Homo sapiens: one gene and its partners. The protein of the gene in region 4 purifies or fractionates together with the protein of the main gene of each other region. This does not show direct contact. Each region holds a gene or a part of one and is shown on either strand. Other genes may lie near its edges.

Region 1 (7,995 bases), on a different chromosome or scaffold from region 4:
AAGGATTTAATCAGACATAGGGGTAAAATGGGCCAGGCGTGGTGGCTCACGCCTGTAATCCCAACACTTTGGGAGGCCAAGGTGGCAGATTGCCCGAGCTCAGGAGTTCTGGACCAGCCTAGACAACATGTGAAACCCCGTCTCTACTAAAATACAAAAAAAAAAAAAAAAAATAGCTGGGCGTGCTGGTGTGCACCTGTAGTCCCAGCTACTCAGGAGGCTGAGGCATGAGAATTGCTTGAACCTGGGAGGCAGAGGTTGCACTGAGCCGAGCTCAAGCCACTGCACTCCATCCTAAGCGACAGAGCAAGACTGTGTCTTAAAAAAGAAAGAAAGAAAGAAAGAAAAAGACATGGGTGTAAAGTAGTTAATATTGTCCCTGGCACATGGCAAGGGCTCCATAAATGTTACTGATGATGTGGATGGTGATGATAGTAGTAGCCACACTCTAATTCTGAGGACTCCTCATAAAAACAGAGTCCCACCTTCCTGATCCCTGCTGGCCTCCACTCTGCTAGGCTTAGGCACTGAAAAAATGAACAAGTGGTGTGCTCTGGGCCCAAGGAGAAGGGGCTCTCAAAGACCAAAGATTTGCATCCTACACAGTGGCGAGAGTGGGGAGTCTTTCAGAACCAGAGGCAGCAGCAGTAGGATGAGGGTTCTCTCCTTACGATGGATGAGGGGAGCAGTAAGGTCCCCAGAGTCAACATGGGAGAGAAAGTGAGTAAATAAGTGTTGAGGGATGGGCTGGAAGCTTTCGATGACATTGCTCAGTGTCCCTTCATAACAGCCCCATGGGATGCTATTATGATTTCTGTCTTATGGATAAAGAAATGTATAAGTAACTCACCAAGGTCATGTAGCTGAGAAGAGCCTGGGCAGATTCCTAGTCAAGGCCTTCCTGACTGCAAAGCCACCCTCACAGTCCAGCCTGTCTGGGCTGAGCTGGGCTAAGGGTGCAGGGGTGGGCTCAGGAGTCCACCAGGTGGACTGTCTCTGGACAGATGTCTCTGGAATCTGTCTCTTCCTCTCCCACCCACTGCCCTAGTCTGGGCTATTATAGGAGTCTCCTTTCCGGCCTCTCTCGCCATCCTCCTCCTCCAATCTGAGCTCTCACTTCAGACAAAGAAACACAGTGGACCAGTCCTCTCCTGGTGTAGAACCCTCTTTTGCCCACAGGCCTGCTTCTCACATGAGCAGTGTCTGCCTAGGGGCATGCAGCAGAGGAGAAGGCTGCCTCCCTGTGGTGCCAATTATACTTTCAAGTTACGACAAGTCCATGCTACAGAGTGGGACGCAAAGTGTCCAGGGATTGTGCTCAGAGCAGGAGTTTGTGTGTGTTGGGGGGAAGAGAGGGGCAGAGAGGAGTATCGTTCCTCATCAGAAAGGTTTCAATGGCCACAAAGATGGAGATAAACTCAGAGATTTGTCCAGCAGACCCTGCTGCACCTGGCTTCTGATGGCTGTCCAGTTGTGTGTCCATGACACCTGGGGGTGCTCTATGCTCCAGCCAGAACTATCTCTAGCCATCTTCCTTATCAGAAGCAATTTATTGCCTCTCTGACCAGAATGTCTTTCCATCCCATTTTTGGCTTGGGAAGCTCCTATGTATTCCTTAAGGTCAATTCCAAGTACCCCTCCTCTGAGAAGCCCTCCCTGATCCCACCTCATGGCTGAATGTCACGTCCTTTCCCAACCCCCCAATCTGCAGTGTGTTCGCTCGGCACCTTGCACTTCCCTCCTCACAGCTTCTTACCACAGGGCACTGTGTCACCGCTTTCAAAGGCAGCCTCTCCAGGAGGCCGTGAGCTCATGAGGTTGGGGAGTTCATCATTAACTCTGCCTTCATTTGCTTATTCAACACACATTCAGAGCCCCTCCTGATGCCAGGCAAGGGGCTCTGGATGCAAGGACGATTCAGTGTGTCCTCAGAGGAGCCCATGATCTGAGGGAAGACAAACCATCCATTCATTTATTGATTGCTATATTAAAACAACACATAAACCAAAAAGCAAAACCCTGTGATAAGCCCCAACACCGGGCCAGGCCCTCTGCTCAGGGATGAGGATAGAGAAAAAAGCAAAACCTTTTCTTGCCCTCAAGGAGATCCTATTCTGGCTAAGGGAAATTGCTAAGTGCGTGGTGTGTCCCCAGAGCTGTGGGGCACCAAGGCAGGTGTGGAGTCCTCTTCTTGCTTTATTTCTTTGTGATAACCAATTAATAAATGAGGGAATGAATAGATTTTTTTCTGTGTGGGTTTTTTTGTTTTTGTTTTTATTGCAGGGGGTGGAGTGGTGCGTCATGGGGCTTTAACCATGAATAAGCTCTGTAAACTAAGTCATTCAATAAATTCTGATCAATTGATTGACTGAAATATCGCACAGGAAGTCACTAGCAGCAACAGGGCTAGATTCTGGGTTTCCACGACCTTGGGATCTCCACCACCCTGGACTCTCTCAATGGGGAGCAAATCTACTCTGTGACTGTCTTGATAGGACTCTGCAGCCTGGAGCTACAGAGCCTCCTGCAATCTCACAGTAAAATGCAGCATTCTTGGCCTGCCTCCCAAGGGGGTTGTGAGCATTAATTAGTTACCATTGGTAAAGTGCTCTGAAGATGTGGGGGTGTATAAACACGGCAAGTCATTAGGCCTCTCCACACCACTATGCTCTACAGCCTAGGGACTGCTAATTGAGAAATAATTAACACCTCAGGGTGCTGAGGACAGCTGCCTGGCTTTTCCAGGATCGGAAGGGATGTAACAACGTGCACAGGAACAGGGAGAAATTAAAGGCTACTTTGGATATGTAGATCCAAGAAATTCTGAAGTTTATTTGCCCCCTGCCCCCAAAGAGGAGGAGTGAGAAATATCAGTCCAGCGAAACCTCTGGGACTGCACTCCTTGGGGAAAGCCTCTACCACAGCTCTGGGCTATAAAGGCTGAGCAAGGCTCTTAGAGACAAAAGAGCTCAGGTCCACCCCAGCCCTGCCTGGCCTCCTAGCTGGTAGGCAAATGCAGTCGTGTGCTCCACCCAAGCTGTGTTTTCTTCAACTGTAAGACCAGGATAATAACATGGCATCTACCCCTGCCGCCTCCACCACTAGGTTGTCCAGTGCCTTTCCTCTAGGGCTGCAGATCTAACCCCGGTGCACATTAGAATTTCCTGGGGAACTATAAAATAATAATGTCTGCACAACCAGCATCTTGGGACAGAGGGTGGCAGTGGGTGCATATAATGACTCTAATGCAGTCAAGGTTGAGAATCACTGCTCTGGCCTGTGTGCCAAGCTCTGTGTGAGGAGCTGGGAGAAATAAAGATGTAAACCACACCACACCCCATGCTTCCCTCACACTGGCTCATCATTTCCTGAGCTGTGCCTTTGAATGTCCTGGTCCCTCTGCCTGAACATTGGCACTCCACTCCCACTGCCATTCTTGTCTGGGTAGACCCCATTCATCCTTCAGGTCCAGCTCAAAGGTAACCTCCTCAGTGAAGCCTTCTTTTCCCACGCTCCCGCAGGGGTTTGCTCAGCCCCTATCACACCACTGATCACACGGAGTTGTTCCTGGAAGATCCTGTCGTACTGAGAGCTTCTTGGGGCCAGTATCGGAATCACCAGTGTCTTGCATTGGGTCTGGTATGTTTTAGGCATTCAATAACTGTAGTTGTTATCAGGTTGAGTTATATAACATGCAGTTCCCACTTCAGGACATTTGCATTTCTTGTTTCCTGTGTCTGGAAATTTCTTCCCCTGCAAGGCTCTGTCTCTCACCCCCTTCTGGTCTTTGCTAAAAACGCCACCTACTTGATGAGGTTTTTCCTGATCCTCCTATTTTAAATTGCAAACACTTGGCTGGGCGCGGTGGCTCACACCTATAATCCCAACAGTTTGGGAGGCCGAGGTGGGTGTATCACCACCTGAGGTCAGGAGTTCAAGACTAGCCTAGCCAATATGGTGAAACCCCATCTCTACTAAAAATACAAAAAGTAGTCGGACGTGGTGGGCACCTGTAATCCCAGCTACTCGGGAGGTTGAGGCAGAAGAATTGCTTAAACCCGGGAGAAGGAGGTTGCAGTGAGCCGAGAACGCGCCATTGTACTCCAGCCTGGGCGACAAGAGCAAAACTCCGTCTCAAAAAAACAAAGAAAAAAATTGCAAACACTTAACTCCCCCACTCCATTCTCCTTCTCTAATTTTTTCTTTATAGCCCTTATCACCATCTGACTGACAGATTCTTTTAAATTTTGATATTTTGTTTGCCATGGATTTTTTGCATTTTGTTTTTTTAAAAAAACAATTGTATTAAAATACTGTTTATCTTGGTTACTGAGTTCTTTGCTCCCATTCCCTGCCCTGCTTAAATTTCGCTCTATTGGTTTATTGACTGTGTCCTCTCTAGAACACAAGCTACACTGAACGCAGTTAATTTTGTCTGTTTGGTTCACTTCACTGTCCCCAGTGTCTACAGCAGTGGCTTCTACGTGGTAGCAGCTCAAAAAATATTTTGTGAATGGAAGTTTGAATCTGTGTCTTAAAGACTGTCTTGGGCACTGTAATAAAGGCGTCTTTCTCAAACTGTTTCACAATTTTATACTATTTAAATGGAAAGCCCGTAAAAATCATAGGATAGATTAGAAACTACACTGCCCAGTGTGTCGTCATGGTTACACTGTCGCCAGTGGTTCTCCTATTGGGGGAGTGGGCGGGGCCTGGCAGGGGCAGGAAGAGCACCCTCAAGTCATCATAGAGTTATACCTCCCAAGTTCCTAGAAAGTACTTCCGGAACGGTGATTTACTCAAGGCTGCCCTGGCCAATCAACGATCTTGGGGAAAGCCGGGTACTCGCTCTTTGGCTACACTTCCGGAAAACCTCTCACGCGCGCCTAGCGTGGGGCGGGGCCAGAGCGCCCCTGCCCTCGGCCCCGCCTCCGTGAGCGCGGCTTTGCAATTGGCGAAAAGGGCAGGAGGCGGGGCTTAGGAGCGGGCTTGCTCGAGGCGCAAGCGCGCTGGCCCGGCACGGCGGTGGTCTTGCGGGAGGCGTGGGCTGGGATTGCGGTAGGTGAACGTGGGTGACTCCCAGACCTGAGGGACGGGCGCGGGCAGCGAAATGAAGCGAGCACGCGGTGTGGGCGCGGAGACCTAGGACCCTGGTGTCCGTTTTCCCACTTGCATCCCGTCCTTGAGTTGGGGCGGGCGAGAATCCCATAAACTTTTCGATACTCCTGGTCTCCGTGTCCTCCGTTGTAAAATGAGGGCAGCACTTCCTGGTCTCTCCCTCGGTCGTCGTGAGAGTCACACAGTTCTCGAAGTGCCAGCTCTGGAAAGGCCCTGGGACCACCTGCTGCCTGAGCCAGCCTTCCCGTTTTATGTTGGAGAAAACGGAGGTCCGGGGCGAAGTGAGTGGTCCAGGGTCACCGAGCGAGTGAAGGCCGAGCTTGTTCTTAGAACTAGGCCTAGGGTTCCATTGCTGTTTAATGTAGCACAGTTCGTGATGGAAACTGTAGGATTTGGAGGCGGGGACCTTGCCTTCCAGGCCCGACCCTGCGCTTATTTGCTGTGTGGCTTGACACAAGTGACTTTATATTTCAGAGCCTCCCTTTTCTGAGTTGGGCATAATAATAATAATAATAGCACTTTGTGAGACTTAATATTATGTATCAGGTACGGTTGTAAACGCTTTAGGTACAACTTTTCTGATTAGATTGGGGGGCAATGGTGAGTCAAAGAATCTTTAAAAAGGCCTGGGCTGGAAGGGCTGACAGTGTCCCGACAGAGTAGGTACTCAAAAAAATCGACTGAATGTCTCAGAGGCTGTTTGCCAGAGCCTGAAGTGTTGCATACGTTAGTTACTGTATTGCTCCTGAAAAACTGAGATAATTCTACTTATTCTCCTGTTTGTATAAGCTGAGGGGTCTGAGGACAGACATGCTAAACGTGGAGGAGAAGAGTTTAAAGCTCTCGTTTAAATTATCCAGATAATTATATCATTGCACCTGTTTGCTTTGCTCTTAATTTATTAACATATTTGATCAACAGATAATAATAGCCTAAATAGTAGGCATTATGCGAGACTCTGAAATTTAAAGATGTATAAAACTTCATAAACTTGTAATTTCATCAAGGAATAGAATGTTAAACATCGACACTGACCTCCCCTCCTGGCCCCCGTACACACCCCCAGAAAGAAAAAAAATTGTATGTGAAACACCATTCGCTTCCAATGCCTGGCACACAATAGTTCCTCAAAAATATTTTTGGAGATGATTCTAATACAGTATACTAAAAAGAGGTGTGTGCAGTGGAGCACAGAGGAGGTGACTTTCTCTGTTTAGAGGGGTTGGAGAAAGTTTCTTGGAGTAAGTGAACCTTGAATTCCAGTTGGAATTGCTGGGGGTTGGGGGGAGGTCAGTCTGTTTCAAGAATAATGAGCAACTTGGGGAATGCTAGGATAAGAAGCTGGAAGAGGTGTGTTGGGATCAAAATGTGAAGAGCTTTGGTGCCATTCTGAGAAAATTATGAGAGCCAGCCGTTAATGGATTGTAAACAGGGGAGTGATTGGGTCAGCTATCTTTTTAGCTGGAGACTAATACGGAGACTGGACTGACAGGGTTCAAGAATTACTCCATTCATTCATTGATAGAACATGTATTGAGCCTGGGCACAGTGGCTCACACCTATAATCCCAGCAATTTGGGAAGCTGAGGCAGGTGGATCGCATGAGGCCAGGAGTTCAAGACCAGCCTGGGCAACATAGCAAGACTCCATCTCTATTTTTTAAGAAAGAAAAAAAGGAACATGTTATTGAGTGTCCACTGTGTCCAGGCACTGTGCTGAATGCTGCAGATAAAACTTGGAATAAAATAGACATAGCTGTCGTCTTCATGGAGTTTAAGACATTAGTCATTGGTGGTACACAGCTAGACCCCTGCAGTGGTTCTCCCAGTGGGGTCCCTGGACCAGCAGCATCTGTGTCACCTGGGAACTTGTTAGAAATACAGGTTCTCTGCCCACACCCCAAACTTACTAAATGAGAAGCTCTGGAGATGGGCCTCTGCAATCACTGTTTTAACAAACCCAACCGGGCATGGTGGCTCACGCCTGTAATCCCAGCACTTTGGGAGGCCGTGGCGGGCTGATCACTTGAGGTCAAGGAGTTTGAGACCAGCCTGGCCAACATGGTGAAACTCTGTCTGTACTAAAAATATGAAAAATAGTTGGGCATGGTGGCACATGCCTGTAATTCCAGCTACTCAGGAGGCTGAGGCAAGAGAATCTCTTGAGGCTGGGGGTACGGAGGTTGCAGTGATCTGACATTGCACCACTGCACTCCAGCCTGGGTGATAGAGTGAACTCTGTCTCTAAAAAAAAAAAAAAAAAAACAAGCCCTCCAGCGATTCTGATGCTCAATTAGATTTCAGAACCACTGGGTAACTGTAATGTAGCAAGTGGTATTGAGGGGCTAACCTAATGTTGAGGCAGTAAGGGCCAGAAAGGAGGGGGTGGACTTAAGGGAAACCTTGAGACAGACTCATTTGCTTTAGGAGGAATCAAGGATGAGTTTCTGGCTGGAGCCACTGCCCTAAGTAAGGTTGGATCACAAGGAAGTTATAGAGCCAGGGGTGAATCCACATGTGCCTTGCCTCCATGGCCCGTACGTTCCTACAACACCACACTAGGGCTCTGTGGCAGTGCCTGACCACCTTTAAACATTTGTACAGTGCACAGGGGAAATGAATGAGGCTGCTTGAGGTTGGAGGGGACAAGCTGGAGGACCTGAGGCTGCTAGAGGTAACCAGCTGGGAGATCCCAGCTCCCTAGAGCTGAGGGGAATCAGCAACCCATACCCAGCATACTGCCGGGAGCTTTGTTGCATGGACTGTGCTGAAAAGTAGAGGTACTCACTAAATTTGGCAATACAAATAAAAAGTCTCAAAAGAATTTATAGCCTTTGATTCAGTAATTCCATTCTTCAACGCCTCTCCCAAATATATA
Region 2 (7,029 bases), 730 kb from region 4:
ATTTCCTTCAGCTTTTCAGCCTGATTTTGGGGGCCTGACTATTTATATACTAATCGGTATATAGCAGTTGGATATCTTTTATGAGCAGCGCTCCCTGCCGTTTTGGTATTACTGTGGCCAACTCTAAGAAAGCAGCGTTATTCCAAAAGAATGTGAGAGTTTTGCCAAAAGAGAAAATAACCCCCAAAACCATTATGCATGATCCATAGGATGTGAGGTTGCAGGCTAGGAATTGTGTGTCTCCCAAGGTATTGCCTTGGTGTCCAGCAGGTATTATTGGAATTTGATTACTTCTTCCTCTCTTCCCCTTCACCTCCATGTCCCTGCAATTTGTAGGTATCCAATTGGTTTGGCAACAAACGAATCAGGTACAAGAAGAACATTGGCAAGTTTCAGGAAGAAGCCAACCTCTATGCTGCAAAGACGGCCGTGACAGCTGCACACGCAGTAGCAGCAGCTGTGCAGAACAACCAGACCAATTCGCCCACCACACCAAATTCCGGTGCGTACTGGGGGCTCGCTCCCCAACTGGCCCAGGCAGCCTTATGCCACAATGCCCTGTCCCACAGGCCAGGAAACAAGAGCCATACTGAGGACAGAGTGGACTTAAAAAGGAAGATTTATGTTCAAATGCAGGCTTGTTCTTGAGATGGGTGAATGAGTGGAAGGTCAGAGCCTGTAAACCCACTCTTCACAGTGAATGCCACTCACTAGTAGATTATGGAAGTTTTACAATTAGTAGTGGCTTTCAGTTCAGTAATTAGGCAGAGTGCTATCGCTCATGACTATTTTAGCTATTTCTTTCCAGATACCACTTTAGGGTCAGTAGTGGTCTGTGGAGAGTGAAATAGCAGAAGTGGGAAATGCAGCAGTTGCTGTGTGTGAGGAAGCTGGAATGCTGGAGGGAAGTGCAGCAGTGCTTTCTGCCCAGCACCGCTGTCCTTTCTCTGCCTTTCAGCAGCACTGTCTGAGCGGGGCTGACGGCATGCTCAGCAGGTGGCTAGCTGTGAGGGTTATGGTGCTTAATACATGCATGCAAGATTCTTGGATCCTCGTCCGGTACATTTTGGCTGCATTTTATGTGACGTTTGTGAGGGGGTTAGAAATACTTTAAAATTTCAGGGAACTTGAATAACAATGAAAGATGTGCAGCTAGTCCAAACAGATGGACTTCAGTAGCAATTCCAGGGGCGTTTCTGAGAAGGTCTCTTAGCTATATCTTTAGAAGTTCAGAAAGTAGGGGGGTTTTTGTTTGTTTTGTCTTGTCTCCTCACCCCCCAGTTCTTTTTAATGGCACATAAAAACAGATGAAAGGAGAGGGAGGTATATGCATAGCGAAGAAAGAGCTCCTGGAAAAGTCTCTTCTCTGGGTGGCTGTCCACTGTGACAGCCATGTTGACAAGCTCGTGTAATGACTAAATCCTGGAGATGAGTGGAAACAAGGGGAAGGGTCCAGGCCAGCTGCTGGGTGTTTTGGTTTATTTTTTCTTTTTAATTTATTTTGATTTGTCTCTTTGTTTTTGCTTTTGTTTTTTAAGTTTGGGCTTCCCCACTGATGGGACTTCTCCTAGATGTGGAGTGACTCACAGGACCCAACTCTCTGGAGTTACTCTCCATCCTCTTAGATCTGGAAATGCTTTATGTTGTGCACAGCCTTTCCCTTCTGTACTTTTTCTCATCTCCCTGCCTCTAGGTCTTTGAGGATTATGTGTGTAGCTCTCTGTTATTCAGCTACTTAACTCTTTCCTTTCCAGGTTCTTCTGGTTCTTTTAACCTCCCAAATTCTGGGGACATGTTCATGAACATGCAGAGTCTGAATGGGGATTCTTACCAAGGGTCCCAAGTCGGAGCCAATGTGCAATCACAGGTAGGAGAAATGCCCCAGTGGGGCCTTTCTAGCAGGGTAGGGTTTGGGCTCAAAACTCCTTCCTCTGACCCCATGGAAGTGGTCTACACATCCATGCAGAACCTGTGCTGGGTGCTTCCAACCAGGACCCATCTGCCCCACCATTTAATTTAATGAGAAGTCAAGTGAACAGTGACTTGTGATGATTCAAACCTGATAAACTTTGTGAATGCATTCGGCTCTGGCTTGAGCTCATGGAGAGGGGTTGGGTGCATCTTACTTTTGTCACAAAATAGAACAGAAAAATTGAGTGTGCCAGTGTGTATATGGTTTAAGAACATGTTGCTGTTTCATTTCTCAAGTCAGAGTACAAAAACCTGAGTTCTTAAATTATAACTCTATAATTTCTACTCTTTTCTTGTCCTCTTATTTGAGAACAGAACTATTCATATAGTTTTTATACATCTAGATGTATGTGTATGAGACATAGAGAAAGTGAGAGAAAGAGAGTTGAGATAATTCCATATACACAATTCTAAGTAGGCTTTCACCCACAGCCACATCCATTTGGTTGCTGTAGATGGAAAGTTGCATTGCCATGAAGATGTTATTGTTTGGCTGGCATGAAAAACAAAGATTTGTGAGTTTAAATATGCAAAGAATGGTTGAAATTCTGCCAGTCACATTTGATTGATAAATTTGTCTTTCATTGAAGATGTTAAACCCTTGTGGCACACATAATTCAAATTATTTCCTTTTGTAAGTGATGACGTTTTAATAGATTTGGGATGATGAATTTTGTTTTGTCTCACTTCTAGGTGGATACCCTCCGTCATGTTATCAATCAGACGGGAGGCTACAGTGATGGCCTTGGAGGAAATTCACTGTACAGTCCACATAATTTAAATGTGAGTACTCTGGGGAGTCAGCTGTAGGAGAACAGTGTCAGGTAAACAGTGACTAATAAAGAAATTAATAGCCATTTGACCTGGCTTCTCATCTTCTTGGCAGGTAGGGAAGGCAGCGTCTTTGCTGCACTTTTATTTTAAGAACCTAAATGCTTGATGCCGTCTAGATACCCTTAGAAGTCCTCATAGATGCCCAGAAATGGCTGGTGTCCTGTCATCAGCAGGGACTTAAGCATCAGCCCATTAAGACGCCATTTCCTACCATCAGTGCTGTGCTCCAGGGAGACGGTAGAAAACAGGTCATTTATCTTAGAACCAGGCAGCGGGAAAAATTCCCAAACAGAACTCAGGTGAAGGTGGTAAGTTTGGAGAATCCCAGGCAGACCAGCAAACCAAGCTAAACAAATAATTGTGTTATTAAAAGCATCTTGCTGTATTGTCAATGTGGGATGCACAACATATTTGACAATTTTAATTATGGAGGAAATAATTTTAACTTTTGTAACTACTTCACTACAACTTTACCTTTCCCTCCACTGACATGGATGGAAAATGGCAAAACACACAGCTCTGGAAAAGGGGGAAGGGGGCAGGGGAGCAGGTCATCGTGGTGGTGCTGCGGGGTGTGGTGGATGGAGTCTGGGGTTCTAGACTTAGGAAGGAAATTAACTGCCCAGCTCACGGTAGTAGACTCAGGAAGAAAATGGGCAAAATTCTTCCTTTTTAGGGCCTTGGCTTGCTACGAGAGTAAATATTAATGATTTAAAAAGTGATTGAGGATGTTCAATTGTAAAGGGAAAAAAGGACCATTAAATACTCAAATCTTTTACATTTGAAATGTCAAATCTTTCTTTTTGGGCTTATAAATAACTCATAATAACCCACAACAAACCATATAAAAAGCCTTTTAGTTGCATTTCTCCTTTTTCATTTAAGTGTTTTGAAATGCTTCAGAGAATGTGCGATATCCTTATCAACATGATAAAATATGAAACTGTGATTGCCTGCAGCATTTTACAGACATGAATTCCATCTTCACTGATGAGGCTTGATAAGGCGCTGTTGTATAATACAGTGCATAATCTCAAACCACCAGAGTAAGGATTAATTTATTTTGAAAAAAAAGAATGCTTGCTGACAACCTCTCCTCCAGCTGCCATGCTGGGTAAAAATATTGTACATTTGTTGTTTATAAATTTGGATAAAAGAGGAATGATGTTTACTTCAGATGGAATATCTTTAGACTTGTATCTGTGTGAGAGTTTTTCTTTTCCTAAGTAGATTTTCATACCTGAGGGGGGAAACAGCTTACCTTTTAGAGAAGAGGATTTCTGAGAGTCCACCGAACACACATGGGCATGTCATTAGCCAACCTGGCAAAACAGAGGCTTTAAAACAATACCACCATAGCTTTTTTTTTTTTTTAAATACTGTTTCCTTTTGTTTTTCCTAACCTGAATTTGATATGCCTCAAGCCTGGAAAATCCTCTTCCCTTAGGGTCTGGTCATCTCTGTGGGGTTCTTAGGTCATAGAGGTAGAAAAGGTGCTTTGCATGCCAACTCTGCAGTGAATTAGAAGACAGGGAGTTCTCCAGGAACTGTGATCACAGAAGAAGAAACAATGGCTGCCACATGCTCATCTAGGAGCTGTATCTAGGCTGGGCAGGGAATCTAGACAAGAGTTCTCAGCAGCCTGGCAGCCCAGGCCTGAAAGAGGGCATTTTGGATGGACTTGCAGAGGAAGTTGCAAATAGATGTGAGGGAGGCAGGAGGCACCTTATGACCCACCCTGACATTGGTGTAGGAGGTCCGGGTCTGGGGGCAGCATGGCGGCAGAGGGTGGTTGGTGCTGCAGGCACGGGGAGCCTGCTCACCCTCACCTCCTCTCCAGAAAGGCCTGCCCCATCACTTCCACTCAGTGTTCCCCAACTCACGAGGCTGGCACCTCCCTCTTCCTGACTGACATAAAAATATGTAGCGACAAGCTGTCTGCCACAGCAGAAATCTGATCAGACATTGATTTCAGCAATTGCCACTATAGGCCAAGACATAAGGCAAATTTGTTTCTGAGTACGGTTATTGCTGCTGCAGGTCTGAGGCAGGAAGGGCCAGCAGCATGTGGAAGGTGGGAGCAACATCCCAAATAGGAGCCTCAGCCACAGATAATTGGAATACAGATTTTAACAGTGTGTGCTGCTCTGCGGCTCATGCATTTTCATTCTGGAAGATCCTATTTGGAGGGAAATTCTGGCCTTCACTTTCCAAGGGTTACAGTAGCTGGCTGTCAGGCGTGTATGGAAAAAGGGTGGGCAACTGCTTCTCTATGGAAATGATGATTAAGCCGGGGTGAAGTTTAGACTTCATGGAGCCCTGGGTTTCGCTGAGGCATTGCATTGAGCTTCTCCACTGCTCCCTTCTGAAGAGATTTCTTTTTGAGTCACTTTAGTTTTACCAGCAGATCAAAGGCCGAGCTCGATGCCAGCATGGGCCTCGCTGAAGCCCTTCTTCGGCGTGTTGATTTATTGCCAAGACTTTACTTGATGGGATGGATTTGTTTTACATGCATTTAATCCCACTTTAACACATGCTGCCAACTCCTGCCACAGTGGGTTTAGAAAATACATTTTGCTAATGCATCTCTGCTCTCATGTTGTCATCCGGGTGTTTTAAATTGGGGAGTAGAATTAATATGTAGACGTGCACCCGTTGAACTGTGTTTCTCCTTTCAGGCTAATGGAGGCTGGCAGGACGCAACAACTCCATCTTCTGTGACTTCTCCTACAGAAGGCCCAGGAAGTGTGCACTCGGATACCTCTAACTAATCTCTGGCCACACTTTTCCCTGAGCTACATGCCTTGATAAGTGCATTCAGAGCAATAGGAGGAAAAGGAAAGCGTTTTTGTAGCCCACCATCTACAGCTTTACTGTAAAACCTTGTCTTATTCGAGAACTTGGTAAATCTGTTTTTTAAGGAATCATAATCATTTGTATTTATACTTAAAAACACACAATGTTAAAAAAAATAAAGCACTTTATCCAATTAGGCCAAGATTTAACATTGTTGACAGTCCTGTAGCTATTTTATCATAATTTATTATCAATATTTTACATTAATGGTTTCACAGTTGCCAATTACTTGGCCTTAAGGGTAAAAAGTACAATATACACTAAACCTCAACCGTTAAAGCAGATGCAAAAATTCACCTCACCTAAATTGAACTTCTTGCATATTTCCATTACTGACTTGGATTGTCTTTCTTTCATATCACTAATGGAGTTGGAATAAAGAGCTGTTTGCCTATCCCTGTTAATGATGGTTGTGTTTAAGAATCTTCCTCGTCACGTTTGTGTTCAGATCTCTTATGTTATAATTAGATCAGAGACTGGTAGCATCGTTTCTCTCTCTGAAAGCACCAGTGCCCAGAGTCTGCTCGGTAATAAAATTATGGATCCAGATTGTTCTGAGAGACGAAGATACTTGCTGCTGATAGAGGTGAAAACGAGATTGATCCGTCTGGGGTTTTACGGTGTGCACTGGGTGCTGCACAGACTTGTCAAGGTTTGCTACGTCCTCTGGGCATCTGCAAAAGGCCCTGCTCTCTGGAGTGTTGTATATAGTGTAGCAAAAGAGTATTTATACATCCCACCAATCAAAACACAGCTTTATTACCTCATGCGAACTCATACAAACCAATAGAATTTCAACATGTTCTGTAGCTTAGAGTGCTCACTTACTACCTCTGAACAATACTCACGCTGTAGTTTGTCTCTTTCTTATCTTTTTGCATCTTGTAATTAACTCTTTGTTTCCCTTCATAAAATGTAATGTACATTGTAATCTTTTAAAAGAAAAATCAGGGTTGCACTTGCAACTTTTAAAAAACCGAGTGTGGAAACATTGGGTCTTAATTCAACACAGGATCGGTAAAACTGTTGTAAATACTGAGAAACATTTTGAATGTTCTTCATCTTATTACTAATCCATGCAAAAAAAAAAAAAAAAGCAGCGACTAATTGTGATGCATTCAGATTTCAGTATTCAGTACTGTATATTTCACCCTGTGTAATGGGGCCCCCTCTCCTTTCTCTCTTTTTGTATTGTATGCGATTCTGAAACTGATTGAGTCATGAAAATAATTTGTGGCGGTGATTCTAATGTATTAAAAACGTTTCGTGTTCCTTTCTAACTGGATTACACCCTGGATTGAAAAAGTCTTCCTCGTGGTAGTTATATGTAGTTTCAAACATGAATAAACTTTTTGCTTTCATGATTAA
Region 3 (7,029 bases), on a different chromosome or scaffold from region 4:
TTCCCTCCTTGATTCTTTATTATATTGCTCTTAAGAAATATTGGAACAGACATTTAGTGTCAGGGGCCCTGTGAGGTTGTGTGGGGAACCGCCTTTCAGGAGTTCACAGTCTTGCTGGCAAGATGGTAGGTGTGCCCTGGCATGTCCTGAGATGCCCCATGGCTGTGGTCTAGGCAGTACGTGCCCTGGTGCCTCAGAGGCTTAGAGATCATTTTCGGCTCTTCTCGTCAGGGCAGATTTCATGAAGGATTTTGAGCTGAGATTTAAAATGAAATAGGACTGTAGTAAGTGGATTTCTGTGGCTGAGAAAGAAGAGGGCATTCTATCACCCAATACAGTGGCTCTAACCATGATGGTGGAAAGAGGTAATGGGAAAGGACCAGATTTAGAGAAATTAAAAGAAATTAGGAAATCAATAGAAAAAACTTCCTTCTTTCCATTACTATCTGATTGTTTTCTTCTTGGCCAGAGTATCGGTGTGCCTTGGGCATCAGAAGAGACTGTGTGTGTGTGTGTGTGTGTGTGTGTGTGTGTGTGTGTGCGCGCGCACACACACACACGCACAGAATAGATATCACATCCATGTAGCTGCCTGTTGTGAAAAGGATTCAGAACTCCAATATTGTAGAGGACTGAAGTGTCTGAGAGTTAAAGATCTAGAGTTCAGTGTCGGCTGTGTCTCATTTGCTTTGATTTTGGGGAAATGTGCTTTGCCTTTATAATCTTCGGTTATCTGCTATGTAAGTTTGGAACATTACTTCATGTTTTGTAAGGTGATGTAATTCAGTGCGTGCAAGTACTTTATGAACAAATAAAAGGTATAACTCTGATGCTCTCAGGAAGCAAGCATTTTGCTCTTTTCCTAAAACTGCATAGCTGACTTGGGAATGAGGCGGGGAGAGCTGGTCTCTCTTTTCTAACTCTTCTGGTAGGATGTGGTAAAGACTGAGCTCCTGGGCAATAGAACACTCTGCATGGAGGTTTGTGCCTACAAATCAAACAAAGAGATCAGCCAGAGAGAGCCTGCCTTTTTGCACACACCGTTGGGAGGCTACCTTGTGCCTTTCCCCAGACCACCTGCCTCTGCTTTCTGTCTTGTTCTTTATCTGTTTCTCTCTCTCAGCTCAGCTTTGGGCCCCTGGACTGTTGTCCAAATCTGAAGACCACCCTCCCTGTAGATCTGCCCTCCTCCCCTCCCAACCTGCCCCCACCTGTGGAAGTTTGAATCTGAGCAGAGGCATTCCCCCAGCATGAACCTGGACACTTGACTGTCCGCCCGCCTGGAGAACCAGTCCTTGGTGAAGAAAGAGTGCCCTCTAGTGGGCATTGGCTGGAGCTGCTCCGGACCCACGTCACTCAGCCAAGGACAAAACAACCCGCCACACGGCCCTCCCGCCAAGGATGATCTTGACTATGCCTTTGGGTTTGGTTTGTTTTTCTCCTTGTGTGAAGAAAAAGAAAGAAAGAACAGCAGGAGACAAGTGGTGAGAGCAGCTCCCACAATGCTGTGACAGTCCCTTTATCTTAGGACTTTTACCAAAGAATTAACCCCAGGGCAAGCGATGGCAGCAAGGTACATGTGACATCAGAAGCTTTTTAAAGGACTTGTGACAATTCCTGTATAAATCACCTACCTGTCTCAACTGGTCTCTTCCATAATTGGGTGGATTTGTGGGAAGGAAACTCTTTCTGTAAGAATGATTACCAAATGGGTTAAATATCTTCATGGGCGCAACCCCTCTGCAGATTGCATATCCACTGCAATCAATGACATTTTTCGGGTAGTGGACGCGTCCGGGCCTGCCTGGCCATTAAAACCCTATATGCATGAGGACAAACAAGGGATTTGGCCCTTTAAAACCTATTTCAGAAAAAAGCTGCTGGGGTGGGGAGGGAAGAGATGAGGGGGAGGGAGAGAGCGCAGGGCACCCATCAGGGAAGCAGGAACCTGATCATATGTGATGGTTGCTGGATTAGGTAACAGCTCCGCTGGTTGAAATTGGATCTTGGAGGATGAGTGTTAACATCTCTGGTGTCCTGGCGAAAGGTTCATTTGAGTCTTGCATGGTGCTGCAGAGATAAAAAGGAGCTTTTAAATAATCATTTTGTCTCCTACTCACCAGAGTACTGGCTTCCAGCAATAAATAGGTAGCATCAGTTCTGCTTAGACATATCACCCTTTTCATTTATTTATTTAATGTTGGTGTTTTTTTTTTTTTTTAACCGCCGAGCTGAACAGTTTGTGTATCAGTGAATCCCAACACCCATTCTTAATAGTGGTATATTTGGATTCTCCTTGCGCTGGCTACAAATATGAGCATGCAAGGTTGTTTATTGGTCCATCCCTGTCCCCTCCAAGCATTACAGACACAGCCCAAATCCACCAGAACTGAATTTTCTATGCAAAATAGTGCAAGATGGTTTTCTTTTAAGGTTTTCCCTTGTTCATATTGTTCCTTAAAAAAATTTTTTTTGGGTTTTTGCACAATCATTTTCTATTTTCATAATTTGAGTATAATTTAAAGGGTGTAATTTGGAAATGACTGTTGTTGGTTTTTCTACCCGCCGCCCTCCCCCCCCCGCCCTTTTCTTTTCATTCTTTTGTTTTCTTCAGAACTCTGATTGGGGACCTATTTATGTGTCTTGAACTCTAAGTGTAAATGCAAGCAATATTTATGCCGTGGTGCATTGTATCTATCTTATCAATTTCTAATTGGCCACATTTAGAAACTAAGTCTATTAACTCATAGTGAATTCAAATTTCTTTTTAGGGAGTATTTATTTGCAGGATTCACAAAATGATGTGAAAGCTAAGCGAAATACTAACACTTTCTTGCCCCAGCCAACCCACCACCACTGCGCCCAATTAAATGTATCCTTCATACCTGAAAGAAAAGAGGCAGTATGCTTTATGCTTTAAGCTTTGCAACCCTCCTGAAACTTCCATGGCGGGTAGGGGCTTGCAGTTTATCCTTTCAGTGTTCTTTGCCAGCCTTGACAATTTCCTTTCTTATTTTATTTAAAACCAGTTAGATTTGAAGGCCAAGAAATGTATTAATTAGGAGGTGTGTAGAGTTTGTGTGAAATTGTTTGTGCTTCCCATTGACTATTTTAAAAAGATGGTGTTTTAAAAAGATGGAGCAGAGGCATGAAACTGAGAGGGGTTGGAAAGAGGAAATATTCTCAGAGGTTAATATTAGGTATATGGGAAATATTCATAGTGATGTGTGCGTGATCACCTGTGTAGCTCCTGGAGGAGCGAGGATCAGAACTGTCTCTCTGCCTTGCCTCTCCCTTCTTTCATACCTCACTGAGTTTGGCTGGAGGAATAAGCTGATGGAATGAATGAGGCCGCTTGGGGTACCCATGTGATTGGAGGAGGTAGGATACTTGATGTCAGCTCAAGTAGGCAGTGCTTAACACTAGCCCTGGCAAGGCAAGTCCTGACCATTAATAGGACATCATTCTTTTTTGCTTTGCTGTTGTTGTTGAGACCAGAGGTTGTCCTAAAATCTCTCAGTGTTGGGCCGCATGCAGGACCAGTTGGGTGTGGAGTAGCCAGGTGGACCCACTTGAAGGCATTAACACCCAGCTGAAGGGTTACCAGCCTCAGCTTCGTGGGGAATGTTCCTGCCAGCCGTGGGGGCTTACGGCCTCTTCTGAAGGAAGTATATTGGACATGAGATTCAGTGAGCGAATGAGAGAGTAGAATTTTGCCCCAGCACAATGTTTTGAATAATCGAGCTAAAGTGAAACAACTATATTTATTAATGGCTCAGAGGCGATTCTTTTTTTTTTCTAATTTGTAAATGACCCATAAATTTCTTTGTGGATAAGGCTATTAAAATTTATCATATAAAGAGAAACAACCACATAGAGGTGAAGGAGAGGCTGCTGGGCGCTGCTGCCAGATGTTTGGATGCCCCGAGATTCTTTTCGGTGCCTTTAGGGCCTGGTATTCAGGGCATGGTTACAGCAGCCATCTACTTTCTTAAGGAAACCTTTGTTAGTGGCAATTTGTTCTTCAGAGTGCTTCGGAGATTTAAGTAAATAAATTTAAGAAACAATAACGTGACTAAATCCTTATTGTGCAAAGATCAGCCAAAGGAGCAGTTTCCCATTCAGTCTCCTGAGCCTACAAAGGAAGGATTTTATTGGAAAAAAAAGTCCACAAAATAAACCTCAATGACCTCCTAACCTTTTGCCGTCACCACTATGGCAATTTTGTTTTTGTGTAGCAGAATATTACATATTCAGGTTTGAAGAGAGAAGATCATGACGTGGTAGTGTTGTGGTTTGCGTCTAGGGTGCAGGCTTCCTTCTTTTCTCCTTCCCAGCTACCTGCTCTCCCTCCTCCCTCCCTCCTTTCCTTCCTCTCATCCTTTTTTACTTCACCACGGAGCCCAAGCTTCTGCCCTGCACCTTTTGTCCTCTTTGCTCTTTATGGCCACCACTGATCCACATGGCTCGCCATTCCATTTGATGGTCTCGTGTTTTGTGAGAGCCATACTGTAGTTTTCCTTTTGGCCTAGGAATTGGGATTTCCTTCTGAACAACGTTCAGGGTTGGTTCTTTTGCTGCCTGTTGGCAGCCAGGAGCATGTGGGCACAGCCAGCAGTTATGCTGGTATTATATGTGATGACGCTCAAACATCTAGACATACCCTCATTGAGCTCATCTTCACCTTCCCTGTTACAACCCGAAGCCCTGCTTTGCCAGGGCTGGGAGACACCTGGAACTGGCACTGTCCCCCTGGGGCTCACCAGATGCACTCTGCCATGAAAACAGCTCTTGACTGTGCTCTGGTGTGTGGATATCCACCAGGGACTTAGACCCTGCCACCTCCATCCCCAAAATGTCAACCAACACCGGACCCCTCTCCTCTGCCTTTAATCACTTCCCTCTTTCCCACCCTACCCACACATTCTTTTCAATTTCTTAAAAATTGAAAACACTTTTTATGTTCCCTCTTAACAAAGACTTGGCTGCTGACAACTGAACTGGATTTAGATGAGTGATTTATTTTATGGGAGGTTGTCTGAAGGGGTAGTAAAAAAGACTGTCTCGCTCTTCTGCTGATTTACTAAATCACTGGATCTCCTTCAGTCCAAATCACCACCAAGGGTCCTGGTGTTTTCATAAAGATCAGCCATCTCATTGATCTGAGACGCCATCCTACCAGAGCACTGGCTTCCCTGAAACCCTGGAGACAGCTTGTTAAAAGGACCTCACCCTTGTTTCCAACAGGACAGAGTCCTTATCACTCGGAACACATAGATCTCAATGTTTGGAGCTAAACGACCCTGCTCAAGGGCCAATTTGTCTTCTTGCTATGTTAGACCTCACTCTCTGCTAGTCCACAGGAAAGGTCTGAAGATTTCGTTCCACATGTACTGGATTTGTGTACTTCAGGTGATTTTGGAAATGAAAAATTTAGACTGATCAAGCATTGCAAAGAAAGGCAATGAGTGCACAACCACAGACTTATGGAAATTTAAAAGGAGAAATAAAGAGGGAAATGCTTTTCCTTAAATTGAAATTAGGTAGTATGGGGATGAAAGTAAAAAATATATTTTGTTATGATTACATTTTTCTAGTTGAAATTTTTTATTGTGGTAAAATATATATAAGATAGAATTTACCTTTTTGGGGGGTGGGGGTGTGGAGTCTTGCTCTGTTGCCCAGGCTGGAGTGCAATGAGTGGCGTGATCTCAGCTCACTGCAGCCTCCGCCTCCTGGGTTCAAGGGATTCCCCTGCCTCAGCCTCCCGAGTAGCTGGGACTACAGGCACGCACCACCACGCCTGGCTAATTTTTTGTATTTTAGTAGAGACGGGGTTTCACCATGTTTGCCAGGATGGTCTCGATCTCCTGACCTCGTGATCAACCCCCCACTCAGCCTCCCAAAGTGCCGAATTTACCATTTTAAACTATTTTTAAGTGTACAGTTGAGTATTATTTTGCAGCCATCTCAAAAACTCAGCTTCCCAAAGTGAAATTCTGCGCTCATTAAACAATAGCTCCCCACTCCTCCCCACAACTCATGGTACCCATTATTCTACTTTCTGCCTCTTATAAATTTGATTATTCGAGATTCCACATACAAGTGGAGTGTAATTTTGGAACAAAGCAAGTCCCTCCTTCATTTTCTCACCCTCTCAGTTTCTCTCTTTTTCCAGCCTTTCTTCTATTCCTCAAATGGCATCTTGCAAGTAACTTGGCAGCTTATGTAGCCAAAGAACACAAATGTGTTGTGTTTTTTATTTTCTTTCTTGGGTTACTATTAACGCTCCCTTCCCTGTCTTTTTCTGTAGTTTTGAGTATCCGAGGAGCCCAGGAGGAGGAACCCACAGACCCCCAGCTGATGCGGCTGGACAACATGCTGTTAGCGGAAGGCGTGGCGGGGCCTGAGAAGGGCGGAGGGTCGGCGGCAGCGGCGGCAGCGGCGGCGGCTTCTGGAGGGGCAGGTTCAGACAACTCAGTGGAGCATTCAGATTACAGAGCCAAACTCTCACAGATCAGACAAATCTACCATACGGAGCTGGAGAAATACGAGCAGGTAACCAGAACCACCTGGGGCTCGGCACCCAGGCCCTTTAGGAAAGGGTGGAGGAAGCACAACCCCGGGGCTTGCAGAGAGGAGCGGCTCACCTTTCCCAGGTGCTGGCATCCCTGTGCCCGGCATCCCCTGCCCAGCCACAGAGCCCTGGCCAAACTTGAGTCTGCCAAGTCCTGGTCTCAACTGTTAAAAACCTAGGCATTCAATGGAGGTAAAGGCATTAAAAAATGTGTGACGCTGTAAATGATTTCAAGGAAACATAAATCGTGCATAGAAGGAACACTCCATACCTGGACTCCAGAACGTGTGTCTGTGATGTGCAGGCCTGGCTCTCATCCGGGCGCTATAGGTGATCAGCAGAGTCACCAGCTAACCTGCAAGAAGGTGGGAGGTTTTCTCTGGCCCTTGTTTTTCCTTATTTATCAGGAGGCCTATACTTTTTCTGGGTGCTCATAGTATCCTATGGGAAAG
Region 4 (7,029 bases):
TAATGTTCTGAGACTGATAACGGAGCCAGGAGTGCTCTGTCCAGATCAGGCCAAACAAGCTAGAAGGGCTGGCCGGAACCCGGGGTGGTGGTGAGAAGGAGGCACAGTGGGGCCCTGTAAACCCAGTCAGCGTCAGGGAGGCTGCCCCCAGGAATCATGGAGACTCTAGCAAGGGTGAGCAACAAAGGCGTTTTGGGCACACACCGAACAAAAGAAATGTGGGGTACCTGGAGTACCTTCTTCATGCCAGCATGGTGCCGAGGGCTTTAAATGCATCCAGCCCCTGCCAACAACCCCATGGTCGGGGATGATCATTCCCTTTTTTTTTTTATTTTTTATATATTTTTTGAGACGGAGTCTCTCTCTGTCGCCCAGGCTGGAGTGCAGTGGTGCGGTCTTGGCTCACCACAATCTCCACCTCCCAGGTTCAAGTGATTCTCTTGCCTCAACCTCCGGAGTAGCTAGGATTACAGGTGTGTGCCACCATACCCGGCTAATTTTTTGTATTTTTAGTAGAGACGGGGTTTCACCATGTTGGCCAGGCTGGTTTTGAACTCCTAACCTTAAGTGATCCGCCCGCCTCAGCCTCCCAAAGTGCTGGGATCACAGGCGTGAGCCACCGCGCTGGCCTGATCATTCCCATTTTATAGATGAAGAATTTGAGGTTCAGAGAGGTCAAATGCCTTGCCTAAAGCTGCACAGCAAGGAAGTTATGGAGGTTGTGCCCGCCACACCTGCTGCTTTACACTGACAACTCGCTACATCTTCATGCTGAGATGCAGGCAGTGTTGTCCAGCCCATTGTATAGATAAGTGAGCTGAGGCTCGAGAAGAAAAATTACTTGCCCGGTCACCAGCTAGCAAGTGGTGGGACAAGGCATGGAACTCAAGTCCATGTGATTCCAATGCCACCTGTCTGTGGCTGGGCCTTCTTCTCAGTGGCTGGCTCCATAGTCCTCCGTGGTGGGAGGCACGAAGAGAGGGGGAATGGGGGCTCACAGAGAAGAGGGAACCCCGCTGGTATCCCCAACCCCTCCCATACACGCCATTAGTCGCTCTCACCCCAGCACAGTAGACAAAGGCAGCCCCATAATTGGGAGTGAGTATTTCATGCATCCCCCCCGATGTTTTATTGGGTGGAGAGATGCTTGGAGACCAAACGGATGGCGCATTCTGTTTATAAAGTGCGCGCAGTTTGTTTTATTTCCTGAGTTTTTGCAATCTAGATAACAGATGATACCCTGAGTGGCTGGCGCTGCCTCTGTAATGGCGGCACTGAGCCTTTGGAGAAGTATTAATAATAGATTGTGTTGATGAGTTTGGAGAAAGTAGCAATCGACCCCCTGCTGCCAAGGCATTAGCGCGGCTGTTCTGAGCACAGCCAGCACTGTGGCTTTGACTGCAAATGCAGGTCACCCGCCCTGCTGCCCCTTCCCCAGCCTAAGAAGGTTTCCTCTCCGGGAGTCACCCAAGGTGTGCTGACCCTGGCCTGGGACCCTGGGACCGTGGCGCTCCCACGCTAGCAGCGACACGGCCAGTGTCTGTCCACTCAGAGGCCGCAGAGGTCAGGCTGCAGACCTTAGTGTGGCCACTAGGTCAGGTGGAGTGTGGGGAGGGGACAGAGGGGCAGTAGGGGTTGGGGGAGGACCACCCTCCATGTCAGAGCACCGGGTTCTACAAACCCAGGCTCCTTCCTCAGCCCCTCGGGAGAGCTGGACAGCCAGCCAGATTCCTAGGGCCTCTGCCTAAAGCTGTCACTGACAGTTGGGTAGGTTGTGCCCTGAACAAGGGGATTCAGCCAGAGGGCCAAATTAGAGCCAAAATCCAGCCCACATTCCCCTTGCAGAGCCATGCCCTGCAGGCTGGTGGGGTCCAGCATGCCCAGAGCAGAGCCTGGCCTCAGCCTCAGCTCACCCCAGGCCTTTACTCACCTACTCTGTAAACACTCACGGAGGCCCCCTTGAGGATCAGATGGGGCCAGGTCCTGTCTCATGGAACCCTGGTAGAGGTGGTAGAGTTGGGCACCAACAGGGACATGCATTGTCATTCTGCTGTGATACCCGTGTACTGAGTTACATGCTCAGCATCCTCGAATCCTGACAACAGCCTTCAGGAAGGGCTTGACATCTCCATTTTACAGGAGTAAACTGAGGTGGGGGACGCTGAGGGGAGCATAGAGGAGGCTACCTCCCCCAGACTGGGGCATCAGAGAAGGCTTCCCAGAGGAGGTGGCATTGGAGTTGGGCATTGCAGGATGAGTAGGAGCCTGCTGGGTAGAATAGAGGTGGGTGGCAGGGGTTGCTGGGGGTGCCCCCTGCTGAGTGCTCTGGCCAGTGCCCAGGCAGCATGCAGAGCTCCAAGTGGCCCTGCCCACTTCGCCCCACCAGCTCGCCGTGGGCGGTTCTGACGGCAGCTCCAGGAAGGGAGGCAGGCGAGTGCCTCCCATTTATGGCCATTTCTGTTCCAGAACCGATTAGTAGAGAATTGCAGCTGTAATCTGTGCCCGTGATGGTGGGCCATAAAGAGGGATGGGATGTGCACAGCGCTCCCAAGGTGGCGCCCGCAGACATGGCCCGGGGACGCCGGGAATGAAAAATGGTTTTAATTCCCTCCCAGCAGCAATAATTTGATTCTTCATAAATTTTTCCATCAAAGTGTTGTTGAGCTGAGTTCCCACAGAGCAGGACACGTGACAGGGTGGGGGAGTGTCGGGAGGAGCGGTCAGCAGACACAGCAGAGGAGGGGCCGTGCTGCCCAGCCCTCCTGCTAGTGCTGACCAGGGCCCGGAGACCACCTCTCCCGGCCCTCGTTTGTCTGCAGAGATGATGGGAGATGGGAGATGGAATCACGTTGTCATGTGGAAGCTGGATTAGGCCCAGCCTGGGAGTTGCCTCCAGCATTTACTACCCATGCGACCCTGAGCAAGCAACTCTGCCTCTTAGCACCTCAATTTCCTCATCTCTAAAATGGGGTTAATGTTCATTCTTTTCTTGCAGGGTTGTTGCAAGGATTAAATGCGTCTCTGCATATAAGATGCTTAGAGCAGGGCTGGCACTCTATACGTGCTCAGTGAATATCTGTTCGTGATGGAGATGCGTAAGCTGAGACGGAGGGATGGGAAGGTGTTAGCCAAGCCAAAGGACAGAGAAAGATGGGTCGAAAGATGGCTGCCATGATAGTGCTCTGGAGAAACTGCAGGCTGTTCTTTGGGGCTGCAGCCTGGGGAAGCAGAGGGTAGAAAGGGAAGAGGCGGGATCATGAAGGGCCTTGAGTGCCAGCCTCAGGAGCTCGGATGGTCTCCTAAGGGCACTAGGGAGCCATGGAAGAGTCTGGAGCAGGGAAGCAGCTTGATCCGATTTGTATTTTAGAAAGATCCCCCTGGCTCCTGTGTGTGTGACGGTTCCTGTGTGGGCTGGGGTTTGAAGGATTGAAGGGGCCAGGAGCCCAGAGAGGGGACCAGGCAGTTGCTCGGGCAGGAGAGGAGGGGCCCAGGCTGGGCAGTGGGTTGGGCAGGGCTGGGAATTGCTTGGATGTGTTGGTGAGGGAGGATCAGAGGAGAGGCAGACCAGGGAGCTGAGGTAGAAAGGATCCTTTCCAGCCAGGGGCTGACCTGGCCCCCAAGGAAAGTTTGAGTGGACCCTCCACACTGCCCTCTTGTGGCCACCGTGTCTCTGAGCTGGAAGGGCCCTGAGCTGCCACGCCCGGGACAGGTGACTCTAGGCAGGATGCCAGCACCCACCCCAGGGCCACTGGGGGCCTGTAGGCAGAAGAATAGGGCTGCAGGGCCCTTCTGCTGTCTGACCTGGTGCCCAAGGAGGGCCTCTCCCTCCCACCTGGGCCTGAGGGTCAGGGTGGCAAGAGGGAGAGGCCCTCGGCAGGAGTGGCCTCTGGGAGGGACTTCTGAGCACCGCCAACACGCCCGCTTTGTGCATCCGCAGGCTCTTCGCGGCCAAGTGCAGCGGCTGCATGGAGAAGATCGCCCCCACCGAGTTCGTGATGCGGGCGCTGGAGTGCGTGTACCACCTGGGCTGCTTCTGCTGCTGCGTGTGTGAACGGCAGCTACGCAAGGGCGACGAATTCGTGCTCAAGGAGGGCCAGCTGCTGTGCAAGGGTGACTACGAGAAGGAGAAGGACCTGCTCAGCTCCGTGAGCCCCGACGAGTCCGACTCCGGTGAGGCCTGGCCTGAGCTGGGGGCAGGCCTCAGGGACGGGGGTTGCTGGGGTGTCCTGGAGGGGAGTCCCGGCTGGAGAAGCCACCTCCTGCTTCCAGGACCTGAGCTGCACACAGATGGTACATGCATATCCAGATGCACACGCGCACTGACGTGTCCACCTGTGTGCACATGATACGAACATGCATCCCCCCAGGCACACTACCCCTGAGACCTACGCATCCATACATATAAACATATGTGTGATCACATGTGTGCACACAAGCACATAAAATGCATGCAGGAATACCCCTACCCTGAGTATGGATACATGTACATGTATGTGGAGATATGTGTTCACATACCCGGGAATTCAAAAGCCACACCCAGGTCCACACACACAAGTGTACACACTTAAGCATACATACACATACACACATGACACAGCACACTTGTGCACTAAACACCGGTCCACATGGCTGCACATATATGTTTGTCCACATGCTCACATGTACTGTGGATTGTGCTTGTGTGCACACACACACCTCTTGTTCTCTGGCCCACCCCCCTTACCCTCTCTGCCTTGATGGCCCCCCACCAACCCGCAGCCCAGCTCCACAGGGGTCTTCACCAGCACCCAGTCCACAGGCTGGGGATGCCTGAGAGGCAGGGAGATGATGTGCCTTCCCCTTCTCAGCCCCCTGGAGCCTTCAGCAGTGAGAAGCAAACAGCCTCGAGCCAGCCTCTGTTTCCCAGCCGAAGGGAGGGGGCTGGGCCCTCTGTGCTGGAGGGAAAGACCCCATTTCCCAGGGTGAAGGACCCTCCCTCCTCTGCTCTAGCCCCCAAAAGGACGAGGCCAATTTGAAGGCCTCCTGGCAGACAGGGCAAGCCCAGCCAGGAGTGAGCCTTAAGGAGGGAAAGCCCAGGAGGTGGCTTTGGTCCTTGTTCTTCCTGGGAACAGTGGGGAAGGACTGGAGCAGGAGGCATGGAGAGGAGGTGTCCCGGTCTGCCAGGCCCCATGGGTAACCTGGAGCCCTCCGGCAACAGGATCTGCCACATGGGAAGGGTTTTCCATGGCCAGGGCCTGCGTGGAGGCAGTGAGCCCACCACCATCTGTCCCTACCCATCCCTGGGCAGGGCACTGCTGCAGCCAGCTCCATGGCTTCCAGCTGCCTGGACTCCTGAGGAAGAGCAGAGGCTGGCCAGCCCCAGCAGAGGGGGTCTCAGTGGGAGGAGATCACCCGCCTCATACTCCAAGAACAGGATTGAAGAAAGGAGACCAGCCTGGGGGGCAGCGGGAGGCCCAGTGGTGGCTGGGGAGGCTTGGCCATCCATCTGGGGCTGCTGGCATTTCTGAGACCCAAACCTGGGGCGGGGAAGTGCCATGTGTGCATGGTGGGTGTGGCTGTAGCACTGGGAGAATGCACATGCTTCCGCACGCTGTGTGTGTCTGTCCAGATGCATGCATGCCTGTACGTTCCTGCCCGTGAGCATGGGCCCATGTGTGTGAATACGCCTGTGAGTTGCACGCGTGAGGGCCTTTGTGAGCCCACGTGTATGTGGCAGCAGGTGAGTGTGCATCTTACGAGTGTGTGCGTGCATACGCTGTGGTCAGAAGCACTCTTGTGTGAATATCTGTGGTGTGTGTCTTTGCTTGCACACTTTCGTGTATGTCCACACAGCCATGTGCACAACCGTGCGTGCACCTGTCTGCCTGTTCCCCGAGTGGGCCTGCCTTCCTGAAAGTGTGTGCAGCCACATGTACGTGTGTGCATGCCTGTGCTGTGGTTGTCCGAGGCGCACCTGTGTGAGTTCCTGTGCAGGTGTGCCCTGCGGCCCAGGATGAGGGAGTGAGGCGTGTGTGCCGGGGAAGGGACTCGCAGGGTACAGCAGGCAGGAGACCAGGGCCCAGATGAGGTAGGGCCTGTGGGCCACGGGAGGGAAGGAGATCTTATCCTGGGCCACTGGGGAGCCACGGCAGGTGTCAACAGAGGGGACAGGCTCCCATCGGGCAGCAGGTTGCCGAAGGGGACAAGGCTGAGGCCTGGGCTGCCCCCGCCCCTTCATCACAGGCCGGGTTGTGTCCCCCACAGTGAAGAGCGAGGATGAAGATGGGGACATGAAGCCGGCCAAGGGGCAGGGCAGTCAGAGCAAGGGCAGCGGGGATGACGGGAAGGACCCGCGGAGGCCCAAGCGACCCCGGACCATCCTCACCACGCAGCAGCGAAGAGCCTTCAAGGCCTCCTTCGAGGTCTCGTCGAAGCCTTGCCGAAAGGTGAGGGGCGGCCGGGGGGCGGGGCTCAGGCTGATGCCCGCACACCCACTGCCTTTCTGGAGACCACCCCCTGCTCCTGCTGGGGGTAGGGACATCCCTCCATCCTCCATCTCTCCGCACATCCCATCATACCCCTAAACCCACCATCTCCCCGTTGCTGCCCCTGGAGGGCCTGACCTGTTCCCCTCTCTCTGAGCCAGGTCCGAGAGACACTGGCAGCTGAGACGGGCCTCAGTGTGCGCGTGGTCCAGGTCTGGTTTCAGAACCAAAGAGCAAAGGTAAGAGGCCACCCCCCATCCCCACTGGCCCCGGGTAGGGTGGGACTAGAGGGGGCAGCCAGAAGACTACGGTCCAGGGGGCGTGGGGCTGGCTGTGCCTGGGGGCGAGGGGCAGCACCGGCCTGAACTGCGCTCTCCCTGCAGATGAAGAAGCTGGCGCGGCGGCACCAGCAGCAGCAGGAGCAGCAGAACTCCCAGCGGCTGGGCCAGGGTGAGCCGGGGCCGGGGCAGGGCCTGGGCCAGGGTGAGCTGGGGCCGGGGCCAGGGGTGGGCCTAGGCCAGGGTGAGCTGGGGCAGAGGCTGGGGCTGGGTGAGCCTGGGCCAGG

Evidence for each region.
Region 1: the proteins of LMX1B (region 4) and PARS2 purify together in Homo sapiens (affinity purification with mass spectrometry; 3 studies listed by BioGRID and IntAct, with this or other methods). This does not show direct contact.
Region 2: the proteins of LMX1B (region 4) and PBX3 purify together in Homo sapiens (affinity purification with mass spectrometry; 3 studies listed by BioGRID and IntAct, with this or other methods). This does not show direct contact.
Region 3: the proteins of LMX1B (region 4) and PBX1 purify together in Homo sapiens (affinity purification with mass spectrometry; 3 studies listed by BioGRID and IntAct, with this or other methods). This does not show direct contact.

What each region holds. Positions count from the first base shown.
Region 1 is NC_000001.11:54,761,524-54,769,518, reverse strand, and holds the start of PARS2 (probable proline--tRNA ligase, mitochondrial precursor), read left to right. Parts: upstream 1-4,995; 5' UTR 4,996-5,058; intron 5,059-7,995. UniProt on the Homo sapiens protein: Mitochondrial aminoacyl-tRNA synthetase that catalyzes the specific attachment of the proline amino acid (aa) to the homologous transfer RNA (tRNA), further participating in protein synthesis.
Region 2 is NC_000009.12:125,960,348-125,967,376, forward strand, and holds part of PBX3 (pre-B-cell leukemia transcription factor 3), read left to right. Parts: intron 1-336; coding exon 337-502; intron 503-1,754; coding exon 1,755-1,867; intron 1,868-2,664; coding exon 2,665-2,754; exon of another isoform or gene 2,755-2,828; intron 2,829-5,483; coding exon 5,484-5,576; 3' UTR 5,577-7,029. UniProt on the Homo sapiens protein: Transcriptional activator that binds the sequence 5'-ATCAATCAA-3'.
Region 3 is NC_000001.11:164,786,181-164,793,209, forward strand, and holds part of PBX1 (pre-B-cell leukemia transcription factor 1), read left to right. Parts: intron 1-6,313; coding exon 6,314-6,558; intron 6,559-7,029. UniProt on the Homo sapiens protein: Transcription factor which binds the DNA sequence 5'-TGATTGAT-3' as part of a heterodimer with HOX proteins such as HOXA1, HOXA5, HOXB7 and HOXB8. Binds to the DNA sequence 5'-TGATTGAC-3' in complex with a nuclear factor which is not a class I HOX protein.
Region 4 is NC_000009.12:126,686,899-126,693,927, forward strand, and holds part of LMX1B (LIM homeobox transcription factor 1-beta), read left to right. Parts: intron 1-3,937; coding exon 3,938-4,170; intron 4,171-6,243; coding exon 6,244-6,425; intron 6,426-6,625; coding exon 6,626-6,703; intron 6,704-6,847; coding exon 6,848-6,914; coding exon of another isoform or gene 6,915-6,947; intron 6,948-7,029. UniProt on the Homo sapiens protein: Transcription factor involved in the regulation of podocyte-expressed genes. Essential for the specification of dorsal limb fate at both the zeugopodal and autopodal levels.